Linked DNA regions of Homo sapiens. The protein of the gene in region 3 purifies or fractionates together with the protein of the main gene of each other region. This does not show direct contact. Each region holds a gene or a part of one and is shown on either strand. Other genes may lie near its edges. The genes, in order: NCBP3, RCC1L and YBX2.

The links.
Region 1: the proteins of YBX2 (region 3) and NCBP3 purify together in Homo sapiens (co-immunoprecipitation; 2 studies listed by BioGRID and IntAct, with this or other methods). This does not show direct contact.
Region 2: the proteins of YBX2 (region 3) and RCC1L purify together in Homo sapiens (co-immunoprecipitation; 2 studies listed by BioGRID and IntAct, with this or other methods). This does not show direct contact.

What each region holds. Positions count from the first base shown.
Region 1 is NC_000017.11:3,844,788-3,848,531, reverse strand, and holds the start of NCBP3 (nuclear cap-binding protein subunit 3), read left to right. Parts: upstream 1-2,285; 5' UTR 2,286-2,308; coding exon 2,309-2,491; intron 2,492-3,744. UniProt on the Homo sapiens protein: Associates with NCBP1/CBP80 to form an alternative cap-binding complex (CBC) which plays a key role in mRNA export. NCBP3 serves as adapter protein linking the capped RNAs (m7GpppG-capped RNA) to NCBP1/CBP80.
Region 2 is NC_000007.14:75,046,134-75,049,877, forward strand, and holds part of RCC1L (RCC1-like G exchanging factor-like protein), read right to left. Parts: intron 1-3,744. UniProt on the Homo sapiens protein: Guanine nucleotide exchange factor (GEF) for mitochondrial dynamin-related GTPase OPA1. Activates OPA1, by exchanging bound GDP for free GTP, and drives OPA1 and MFN1-dependent mitochondrial fusion. Plays an essential role in mitochondrial ribosome biogenesis.
Region 3 is NC_000017.11:7,292,934-7,296,677, forward strand, and holds the start of YBX2 (Y-box-binding protein 2), read right to left. Parts: upstream 1,707-3,744; 5' UTR 1,568-1,706; coding exon 1,297-1,567; intron 606-1,296; coding exon 542-605; intron 1-541. UniProt on the Homo sapiens protein: Major constituent of messenger ribonucleoprotein particles (mRNPs). Involved in the regulation of the stability and/or translation of germ cell mRNAs. Binds to Y-box consensus promoter element.

The DNA.
Region 1 (3,744 bases), 3.4 Mb from region 3:
TCAGCAGGCTGCATCGCGAACAGGAAAGGGGATGGGAGATGGTGACTAAGGTGACCACAAAGAGCAAGGCACAGAGGGCTTTCCTGACACGCGCCTAGGAGCCTTGGTGTTTGCCTGATGTCCCGGCTTGTCCTGGACTCCTCATGTACCTGCCGGCTGGTGTGCCAGGGTGCTGGGGCTCTTCTGGATGGCACTGAACTGCAACACTGAATCCTCACCGAATTGCGTCCTCAAGCAACAAGGCATCCTCCCCAGCAGGGTGAGGGGCCTGCCCAGCCTTCTCTACTGGCCTCCTGGTGTCCATAGCTGAGGAGGGATTACTTCCTCCTCTCCCATCCCCTAACCCCACAGGCCTAGTAATGGTGGGGGCTGTGACTCTTACCTATAGCTGGCCACCCCAACTACACATTTTGTTTGAAATTAAACACACACACACACACACACCCGTACATATTCTATGTATGCATTCAACCCATTTTTTTTTTTTTTTTTTGGAGACGGAGTCTCGCTCTGTCGCCCAGGCTGGAGTGCAGTGGTATGATCTCGGCTCACTGCAACCTCCACCTCCCGGGTTCAAGTGATTCTCCTGCCTCAGCCTCCCAAGTAGTGCATGCCACCATGCCCGGCTAATTTTTTTTTTTTAGTAGAGACACGGTTTCACCATGTTAGCCAGGATGATCTCGATCTCCTGACCTCATGATCTGCCCGCCTTGGCCTCCCAAAGTGTTGGGATTACAGGCATGAGCCACCGTGCCCGGCCTCAACCCAATTTTTAAAAGTACTTTGTGTCCCATTCATCAAATAAAACTAGTCCTCTAAAGAGCTCTGTCTTGTGTTTATCCTGTGGTTTAGCCCAAATTTAAGAAAAACTGTGATGTACTGCACCCCTTCTGTTGGACCCTGTATCTACATATAAATTATCACATTTAACCCTCACAACCTCCTTTGTAGGTAGGTAATGGTCCATTTTACTGATGAAGGAACTGAGACTCCAAAGTGCTAAGCAGCTTGCCTAAGGTCACACATGGTGGATGGGGCCCGGCCAGCCAGCTCGAAACCCAGGTGTGTCTGATGCTGACCATGCTCTTCCTTGGTTTATCATTATTTGCTCCTCCATGGTCAGAGCTGGTAGGGCCTCAGGGCCTCAGAGACTGTAGGGTCTCACCTATGCCCTCCTCAGATGGGAAAACAGACCCAAAAACCTGTCCAAGGTTACCCAGGGAGGAAGATGCAAAATCAGGACTCAGGCCGGGCGCGGTGGCTCATGCCTGTAATCCCAAGACTTTGGGAGGCCGAGGCGGGTGGATCGCTTGAGGTTAGGAATTCGAGACCAGCTTAGTCAACATGGTGAAACCCTGTCTCTACAAAAAAAAAAAAAAAAAAGAAAGAAAGAAAGAAAGAGGAGAGGGAGGAAGGAAGGAAAAGAGAAAGAAAGAAAAGAAGAAAGAAAGGAAGGAAGAAAGGAATAAAGAAAGAAAGAAAGAAAGAAAAAGAAAATCAGGACTCAGAACAGCAGCTGATCAGTGACACCCTCGGGACGCGTAGACAACCCCTCTCCCCCACCAGGCTCTCGTTAGAAATATCCGCCGGAAACTATGCTCACAGGTCTACAGTGGATGGCACCCTCAGGAGTCAGGAAATCGGCGTCCAAGTTCTGGCCTTTGGGCAGGTCTCTCCCTCTTGGAGTCTCAATTTTTGTGTATGTAACATGGGCCAATTTTGGGGAGACTTTTAAGAGACAAAGACTGGCAAGGCAAGTAACTTTATAAACCTACAGATTGTCCAGAGGTGATATATCAAGGCTCATTGTAAACTCTGGAAGACTTAGATCCAGCTTTTATCCCTTAAATGGCGTCACCTTGGGTCAATTTCTATGCCTCAGTTTCCTCATATATGAAATGGGGGTCAAAATAGGATCTACTTCATAGAGTTGTTCTAAGGGTTCGAGCGCTTGGAAGTGTCTGGCCCATAGTGATCACTCAGGAAAGTTGGCTTTTAGTACAGCTTTAGCCTCAAGGCGTAGCTACATTGTAACCCTTGACTACCCCGGTCTCCTCCAAGCTCCGTAGTTCCCGCAGGCCCCGCCCCCGTCCCCGCTCAGTCCCGCCTTCTCCTCCCCAGGTCCCGCCCGCGCAGCCGGCCCGGTTTTCTCCCGCCACCAGGGGGCGGCGGCGCTAAGGGCGGCCTTCTGGGCCGAAGCCGGCGACGCTCTAGGTAGCTGCGGCGGCTCCTCTGTGGCCAGTGGCAGCGGCGCTCTAGCCGGCGGCCGTGAGGGGCGGGCTCTCAGTGGTGCGGCCGGCAGGCAGCGATGGCGGCCGTACGGGGCCTGCGGGTGTCGGTGAAGGCGGAGGCCCCGGCGGGGCCGGCCCTGGGGCTCCCGTCCCCTGAGGCGGAGTCCGGTGTTGACCGTGGCGAGCCGGAGCCCATGGAGGTGGAGGAGGGCGAGCTGGAAATCGTGCCTGTGCGGCGCTCGCTCAAGGAACTGATCCCGGTACGGGCGGGGGTCGGGGGGTAAGGAAGAGGTCGCGGGGCTAGTGTCTAGCGCCGGAGGGGGCCGGAAGGGGCGGTGGCCGGAGCCCCAGCCGGGGAAGTCAAGGGAGCGGGAGAGGAGGGAGCCAGCGTCCTGGGAACGGGAACGCCGGGCTGGAGGAGGGACGCGGAGCGGGAGAAAGGACGCCGGGGCGCCGGAAATGGGTGTTGAGGGGGCTGGGGGGTGGTGGCGGAGAGCTGGGAGGGAGTTGAGGACCCCCCTCCGCTGCCCCCTCTGAGCCGCGCTGTGCAAGGAGGTGAGTGAGGAGGGGCTGGAAGGATGAGATAAAGGGGGAGCCCTGGGCGGGAACAGAACCAGGGGCAGCCCAGAAGGAGCTGTTGGGTGGCGCCAGCAACCAGGTCTCCTTGTGGGTCTTGCCCCGGAGGAATTTGTATCTGGGAAACATGGCACTCGCTCTTTGTCTTGAGAGGGCTGCACTTGTCAGCAGCAGAAACTCACTGTTTCTGTCGTGACTTCGGGGTCATCTTGCCCCCCCCGCAGCTCCAGTGACACCTACACCGTGGCCCCAGCATCTGACTCTTAATGAAAGCAAACTAGCAGACGACCAATAGACATCCTTGGTCCCTCCTTTACCGCGCTGGGGATGGTGAGAGGTGTTTTGCTTGTGACTTGGTGGCTGTATATCCAGTTCTCAGAGCTGGTTTCAGGCCTGGATGACTCCTCTTAATTTCTCACCTAACATGAATTACTTTTGACCACATGTCAACATATTTAGACTGAAGTTATGGAGAAAGGTTAAAGTATGATCGCTAGAGATGGCAAACGTTATAATTATGATTAACAACAGCTAATATAGTAGCATTTACCATTCACTATATTGTGTCACTTAAATATACTGGCCGTGCACGCCTTTAGTGCCAGCTATTCAGGAGTCTAAGTTCCAGACCAGCCTCAGCAATATAGCAAGACCCCTTTGAGGTCCCCCCTTTCCCCTCTCCCCATCTCAAAAACAAAACCAAAATAAATAAATATTACTGCAGTTGTGAAGCAGGTGTTATCATCCCTTTAGTCATTCAGTTCAACATGGTTTTTGTTTTGTTTTGTTTTGAGACGGAGTTCGCTCTTGTTGCCCAGGCTGGAACGCAATGGCGCGATCTCGGCTCACCGCAACTTCCGCCTCCCGGGTTCAAGCCATTCTCCTGCCTCAGCCTCCTGAGTAGCCAAGTACAATGGCCTGATCTTGGCTCACCGCA
Region 2 (3,744 bases), on a different chromosome or scaffold from region 3:
TGGATGCTAGAAACCAAGTCATGCTGTCATCCCCCAGCCCTGTCCCTAAACAAATGAATGTCTTTAGCAGAACCTATTACAGGAATCACTAAACAAACAAGAACGGGGCCCAGTGAATCGCAAAGGCACGTCGATGCAGAAAGCCTGAGAGGCTGGCCGGAGAAGAAAACAGGCTGCCTCTGCAGGGACTGGGCCCCGACCGCCTCTTAGCAACCTCCCCAGCCATTAGGGAGCACTTTATTTACCTTTCCCGGGACAGTGCGCTTCCTCACGGCTGCACTTAAGCCCCCAGGTCCTTGCTCCCCGAGGGCTCTGGCCATTCAAGCCCAAAGCAAAGGAAGCCACGATGGTCTCTGCTGCGGGTGGCCTGGGCAGCAAGGGCCCGGCTCCTGGGAGCCAGCCCTAGGGACCAGCGGGAGGCTCCCCAAGGTTCCAGCTCCCCCTGGCGGACAATCTCACACGGTCTCTGAACTGAGTCCAAGAGGAGACTGCCCTCAGCCATGTTTTATTTTTGTCCTAGGCAAGGTTAAATGGCGTTTTTCTTCTAAGCCAATTTACACTCACAACTCCGCTGCTGAGGGAAACAGTTCCAAAAACCAGAACCATATTTAGCCTTGGTGACTCTCTTAAAAGTCTCAGCAGAATCCATTTAGGAACATCCCTATCCACAATTACAAGTTGCTAAAACGAACGCCCACCAGGTGAAAGACGGGGGTGCGGGAAGAAGGAACCCTGGGCGGTGAGTCCTTCGTGGGGACAAGAGAGCCAGAGAAAGGGAGACTACTCCGGCGCCCAGCTCTGCAGTTCAATGGCACCAGCTTTTCTATTTTTTTTTTTTCAATGAGACGGAGTCTCGCTCTGTCACCCAGGCTGGAGTGCAGTGGCACGATCTCGGCTCACTGCAACCTCCGCCTCCCAAGTTCAAGCAATTCTCCTGCCTCAGCCCCCCAAGTAGCTGGGATTACAGGCATGCGCCACCACACCTGGCTAATATTTGTATTTTTAGTGGAGACAGGGTTTCACCATGTTGGCCAAGCTGGTCCCAAACTCCTGACCTCGTGATCCGCCCGCCTCGGCACCCCCAAAGTGCTGGGATTACAGGCGTGAGCCACTGCGCCCGGCCGCTTTTGTATTTTTAAATTTTTGTTTAGAGACAAGGTCTTGTTCTGTTGCCCCCGGCTGGAGCGCAGTGGTGTGATCATAGCTCACTGCAGCTTCCAACTCCTGGGCTCAAGTGATCCTCCTGCCTCAGCCTCCCAGGGAGCTGGGATTACAGGCACACGCCACTGCACCTGGGTCATTTGTTTTTTGTAGAGATGGAGTCTCACTATGTTGCCCAGGCTGGTCTTGAACTCCTGGCCTCAAGCAATCCTTTCGCGTCAGCCTCTCAAAGCGCTGGGATTATAGGCGTTGAGTTACCATGCCTGGCCTGTGCCCGGCTTTTAACTTGTACTCCTCTCCTGCATTGTGAGAACCACCTAGGTGGGTACATACACAGATGAATAAATAAAATTATATATATATATTTTTTGGAGACAGAGTATCACTCTGTCGCCCAGGCTGGAGTGCAGTGGCGCAATCTCGGCTCACTGCAACCTCCGCCTCCTAGGTTCAAGTGATTCTCCTGCTCAGACTTCTGAGTAGCTGGGATTACAGGCGTGCACCCCCACGCCTGGCTAATTTTTGTATTTTTAGTAGAGACGGGGTTTCGCCATGTTGGTCAGGCTGGTATCGAACTCCTGACCCCATGATCTGCCCATCTTGGCCTCCCAAAGTGCTGGGATTATAGAGATGAGCCATAGCGCCTGGCCAATAATTAAAAAAAAAAAAAAAAAAAAAAAAAGAACCACCGGCCAGGAGCAGTGGCTCACACCTGTAATCCCAGCACTTTGGGAGGCCGAGGCAGGTGGATCACCTGAGGTGAGGAGTTTGAGACCAGCCTGGGCAACATGGTGAAACCTCATCTCTACTAAAAATACAAAAATTAGCCAGGCATGGTGGCACATGCCTGTAATCCCAGCTACTGGGGAGGCTGAGGCAAGAGAATCGCTTGAACCCGGGAGGCGGAGGTTGCAGTGAGCCCAGATTGTGCCACTGTACTCCAACCTGGGTGACAAAGCAGGACATCGCCTCAAAAAAAAAAAAAAAAAAAAAGAACCACCACCTAAGACCCAGGGCTATGGAAGGAGTCGTATAAGCGAGGCTAGAAGTCAGCGAGCTCCCCAGCTTGTGTCTCCAGACCCCACCGGTCCTGACCTGCAGGGCCCACGGGGAGGGGAAGCACCGTCTACAGGCAGAGTCGCAAGTTCAAATTATACCCAATGAGCTCAGGGGCCGTGAGACCTGGGGCAAGCCCCTTCGCTCCTGACTTCCGTGTCCCCGTGTGCACACTGTGGAGGGAGAAACCCCACCCTCAAGGTGTCTGGAGGATGAGAGAGAATGGACATCACGTGCCCAGCACGCTGTCCATGCCCTGCCCTCCCCCGAAGCCAGGCTGGAATGTTTGTCTGTGGAAAGCCAGGGCGCTCCCTGGGGGATGAGGGGTGAAGGCCACTCCACACCCCCTCGCTGCCTGCTGTAGGTCTGTGGCACTCCCCCTTAGGTCAGAGGGTCTTGGAAGGCCAGACAACGCCTGGTCAAATGTTCCGTGCCACTGCGTGCTGCCTTCTCTCCACACCAGCTTCAGGCTCGCCCAGGGAGGTGGGTGGCCGTGGAAAGACCATTGTCTTAAAAGTCAGATGTAACTGAGTCCAAATCCTGGCTCTGACTCCAACTTAGATATGTGACCCTGGGAAACCACTGAACCTCTCTGAGGGATGAGTCTCAACGTGTAGCAAAAAAACATGTCCTGGAAAGTTTCTGGAAGCAGAGGTTTGAATCAGGTGGCTCAGATGTCACCTCCCGGGCCCACATACTCAGAAAAGGCCAAATTCTGCAAGTCTAAGAATAACTAGTTGGTACCAGTGTATGAGCTACAAGTAAAGTTTTACTCTTTTTTTCTCTTCTTTTCTGGAATACTTTTTAAATGATGTAATATATCCCCTACGGAAGATTAATTTGAACATAGTTGTTTTAAAGAATAAAGATCACCCAAGCCAGTGACTCACCCCTGTAGTTCCAACATTTTGTGAGGCCAAGGTGGGAAGACCACTTGAGGCAGAAGTTTGAGACCAGCCTGGGCAACATAGGAAGACCTCATCTCTCAAATAAATAAAATAAAACAAATAAATATAAATAATAAAATAAGCCGTGTGTGGTGGCACATGCCTGTAATCTCAGCTATTCCAGAGGCTGAAGCAAGAGGATCACTTGAGACCAGGAGGTTGAGATCAACACATAAGACCCCGTCTCTTAAAAAAAAAACGAAAAAAAAATTATTTGGGTGTGGTGCTGGCACATGCCTGTCATCCCATCCCACATCTCAGTTACTTGTGGGGCTGAGGCAGGAGGATAGCTTGAGCCTGGGAGTTTGAGGCTGCAGTGAGTGTGATCACACCATACTCCAGCCTGGGCGACAAAGCAAGACCCTGTTTTCAAAAAAAAAAAAAAATCCTGGGCAACACGGCAAGACCCCATCTCTACAAAAAATACAAAAATTAGCAAGGTGTGGTTGTGCAAGCCTGTAATCCCAGCTACTCGGGAGGCTGAGATAGGAGGATCACTTGAACCTGGGAGACAGAGGCTGCAGTGAGCCGAGATCCTGTCACCACACTCCAGCTTGGGTGACAGAGCAAGACCCTGTCT
Region 3 (3,744 bases):
ACTGCCACAGCCTCTCCCGGTGCTGAGGGGTGGGGCTGCCTACTGAAGGAAAGCAGCAGCCTCTGGCTCCTTCCTCCTGACCCCCACTGTCAGCCTCAGTCCCAACAGGTGGAGGGCTCGAATGAGCCACAGCTCTTTAAGGGAGTTGAGTTGTGAGTGCTGCCATAACAGGAAATCAGTTGAGGATTCCAGCCGGGGGCCCTGAGGCACAGAGAACCCTATAATACATTCTGCCCCAAAGGCATGTCAGAGTAAAAGTAATGAAGCAATTCCAGAAGGTGAGATGAGAAGCTGGCAGGGTCAGAGCCAGGTTTGCCAAGTTCCTGAATCATTAATCCTCCGCTACCCTTGAAGATGCGGAGGAGGCTTCCTCTTGTCACGAAGCACACATTTGTGCTGCGGTTAAAGGCTTTCAACCAGCATCAGCTGGACATTGCAACCATGTGCCTCCGCAGGGGTCGATGAGGTTGGGCGGGTGTCCAGTCCCACAGGCCAGCTGGGAAGACACCCATTCCACCCCCGCCCTGGGTTCCTTGGATACCTGTTGATGAATCCGTAACCATTCCGGACGTTGAACCATTTGACAGTGCCCAGGACTTGGATTGCTGCCAGGCAGAGATGCAGTGGGGACAGTGAGATGGGGGGAAGAGATGGAGTTGAACTCAGTTTTGAGACACTCCAAAACAAAAAAAAATCTAGCCTACTGCCTTATTACCTATTCAGGTTACCTTCAAGCCAACCAGGTTTCACTAGTAGCTTCAAGGTATTCCTACCCTAGTCCACCAAATGAAATCACCCACACAGGGACTCAGGCTTTCAAAAAGCCTTCCAACTCTAAGTCACGTTCCCCACATCCTACAAATCCAGCCCCTTCACCTAGAACTGGGTACTCACCTGGTCTGCAAAGTGCCGCCCCCAGGTCATAACTGAGGGTTTTTCTAGCCCTCCCAATGCAAGGGTCCCCAGTGCACCTGCTTGCCAGGCTCAGAGGTTTGCCTAGTTCTAACCCAGTCAACTAGGCACTGTGTCCCGCCCGGGGGCGTGGCCGGACCCTGGGGCTTTATTCTCCACCCCAAGACCTTAGCTGAACCTGCCGGCCCCGCCCTCTCTCCCAGGAAGGTACGGCAGGATTTCCCACCAGGGGAATCCACTTTGGTGCGCAGCTCCCAGCCCAGTTAGCGCTCTGGGCCTGCGGGCCAGGCCGCCTTTGGTTTTCCGGATCCTGCCGGGCTCCACACTGCCCCTCCCCCAGCCCGCCGACCCCTCAGAGCCGCCCTGTGCGCGCCTGCCCCTCACCCAGCACCGGCTTGTCCGCCTGACTCCGGGCCGGGGGGGCGGGGGTTCCCGAGACCGCCGTCGCCGGATTGCCAGGGGTGCGGGAGCCCGGCGCCGAGGGGGTCCCAGCAGCGGGGCCCGAGGCGGCTCCGCCCCCGCCGCCCGCCCCGCCGCCTTTCTGCGGCTCCCCTGCGGGCACCGGTACCACCACCGCTACCACCCCTGCCGCCGTCGCGGGCACCGTCGCCGCGGGGACCGCTGTAGCCCCCGCTGCCGCCTCCACCTCGCTCATCCCGCCGGGTCCAGTACCGGCCACAGCCGCCACCGCCCCGGCCCCTCCCCCCGGCTCGCGAACCCACCGCCCTGCTCGGTCCTCGCGCCCCGAGCCTCGCCCACACGCCGGCAGCGGGCCCGGAGCCGAGGCCAATGGCAGCCCGCTGCCGCCGCTCGCGCAGACCCCGCCTCCCGACCACGGGCCAATCCCAGCCCAGCAGCACCCCCGGACCGCACGCCGACCCCGCCTCCCGGACTTCGCACCGCGGCCCCGGCCCCCGCCAGCCGCCCAGTAAGTACACCTGGGCCCCGCCCCCTGGCCGCCACGTGACGGCCCCCGGCCCAACCCATTGGCCGGCGGCCCCTTTCCCCTCCCCCCTCCGCCCCTTTCCACCGGCCGCGGGAAATCAAACGGGCCGGTCGCGCCCCAACCGCCACCTGGCCTCTGCGGGAAGGGCGGGGCCGGGGCCGCAGTGCCAAGGTTGCCCCTAACGACCTGAGCGAGGGGCGGGAATCTGCAGCCTCGGTTCTGGCAGTGAGTAGCACCGCTCGCCTCCACCCTCGAGACCGACCTTGCCCGTATGCTGCCAGGTGCAGACGCCTTCCGGCCACCACCGCCCTTGGCACCCTCTCCCCACAGGACGGCCCTGCACACCCTGGGGCTGCGGGATCCAACCGCAGGATAGGCTGGAAAGCGCAGCAGAATGGTTTTCCCGGCTCACACTTGCTCCCATGAGCCAGGACCCCCTACTTTTCTTTTTTCTTTCTTTTTCTTTTCTTTTCTTTTTTTTTTTTTTTTTGAGACAGGGTCTCGCCCTGTCGCCCAGACTAGAGTGCAGTGGCGCGATCTCGGCTCGCTACAACCTCCGCCTCCCTGGTTCAAGCGATTCTCCTGCCTTGAGCCACCTCAAGGTGGCTCCCGGCCTGCCCCTACCTATGTTTGTATTGGAAACAAGGTTTACAAGTAGTACAATGCGCAATTCTTCTTCGCTGAGTTTGTTTGTTTGTTTGTTTTGACACAAGGTCTCCCTCTGTCGCCCGGGCTGGAGCGCAGTGCGCGATCTGGGCTCACTGCAGCCTCTGCCTCCCGGGTTCAAGCGATTCTCCCTCCTCAGCCTCCTGAGTACCTGGAATTACAGGCTTGCGCCACCACAACCTGGCTAATTTCTGTATTTTTAGTAGAGATGGGGTTTCACCATATTGGCCAGGCTGGTCTCGAACTCCTGACCTCTGGTGATCCGCCCGCCTCAGCCTCCCAAAGTGTTGGGATGACAGGGTAAGCCACCGTGCCCGGCCTTCGCTGAGTTTTGATCAATGTGTCCACCCATGTGGCCCATACCGACCGCTGCAGCTCTGATGTCTACCGCCCTAGACTGGCTTTGGGGTCTCTCACGTCTGTATGCCGGGGGCTGTGGTCTCCGGCCAGGCGTCAAGCTCCAGCGGACTCGAGGCCTTTTGCACATGCGGTTTCCTCTGCCGAAAACGCGCCTTCGTGTCTCCAGGTGGCTCTCTCCAAGCAGCAGCTTACGTGCCACTCTTCGCCATCACACCATTCCTTATTTTTCTAATGGCATTTTTGAAAATATGACATGATCCTGACCATTTGCTTATTTTATTTCCCTGCACACAGTGGGCTGTAAACTCCACAGCAGTAAGAGCCTTGTAGTTAAGCTGGACGCCTGCAGCAGTGCCTGGTACAACGTACACGTTCAATATTTATCGAATACATGAACGGCCCCCATTCCACAGATGAGAGGACTGAGGGGCAGTGCGAGGCTTGTACCAGGTTTCTCGGGAGCCTGGGAAGATTAAGAAAATGGGCCGGGCGCGGTGGCTCACGCCTGTAATCCCAGAAAAACGAGGCTCCAGCAGTATCTCCTCCCTAGGGCCGCCTCCCCCACCAGGGAGGACGCGGGTGCGCGTTGTATTTTTAGCCAGGGCAGCGCGCCCCGGGGCAGCACACGTGCCCCCAGGCGCTGCTGGGCAAGCCCCACGTGCGCTTCCCAAGGGCTGGCGTCCTCCGCGTCTCCTTCGCCGCCAGCTGCCCGCAGCAGCCGCAGTCGCCTCTCCCGGTCCCGGCGCGCCCTCTGCCGGCCGCTCCCGGAGGCCGCCGGATTCCGCTTCCTCGCTGACCCTCCACTTGCTATCTATCGCCCGCCGCACCCCTCCGGCCCTTTCAGAGTTGAAGATTCGGAT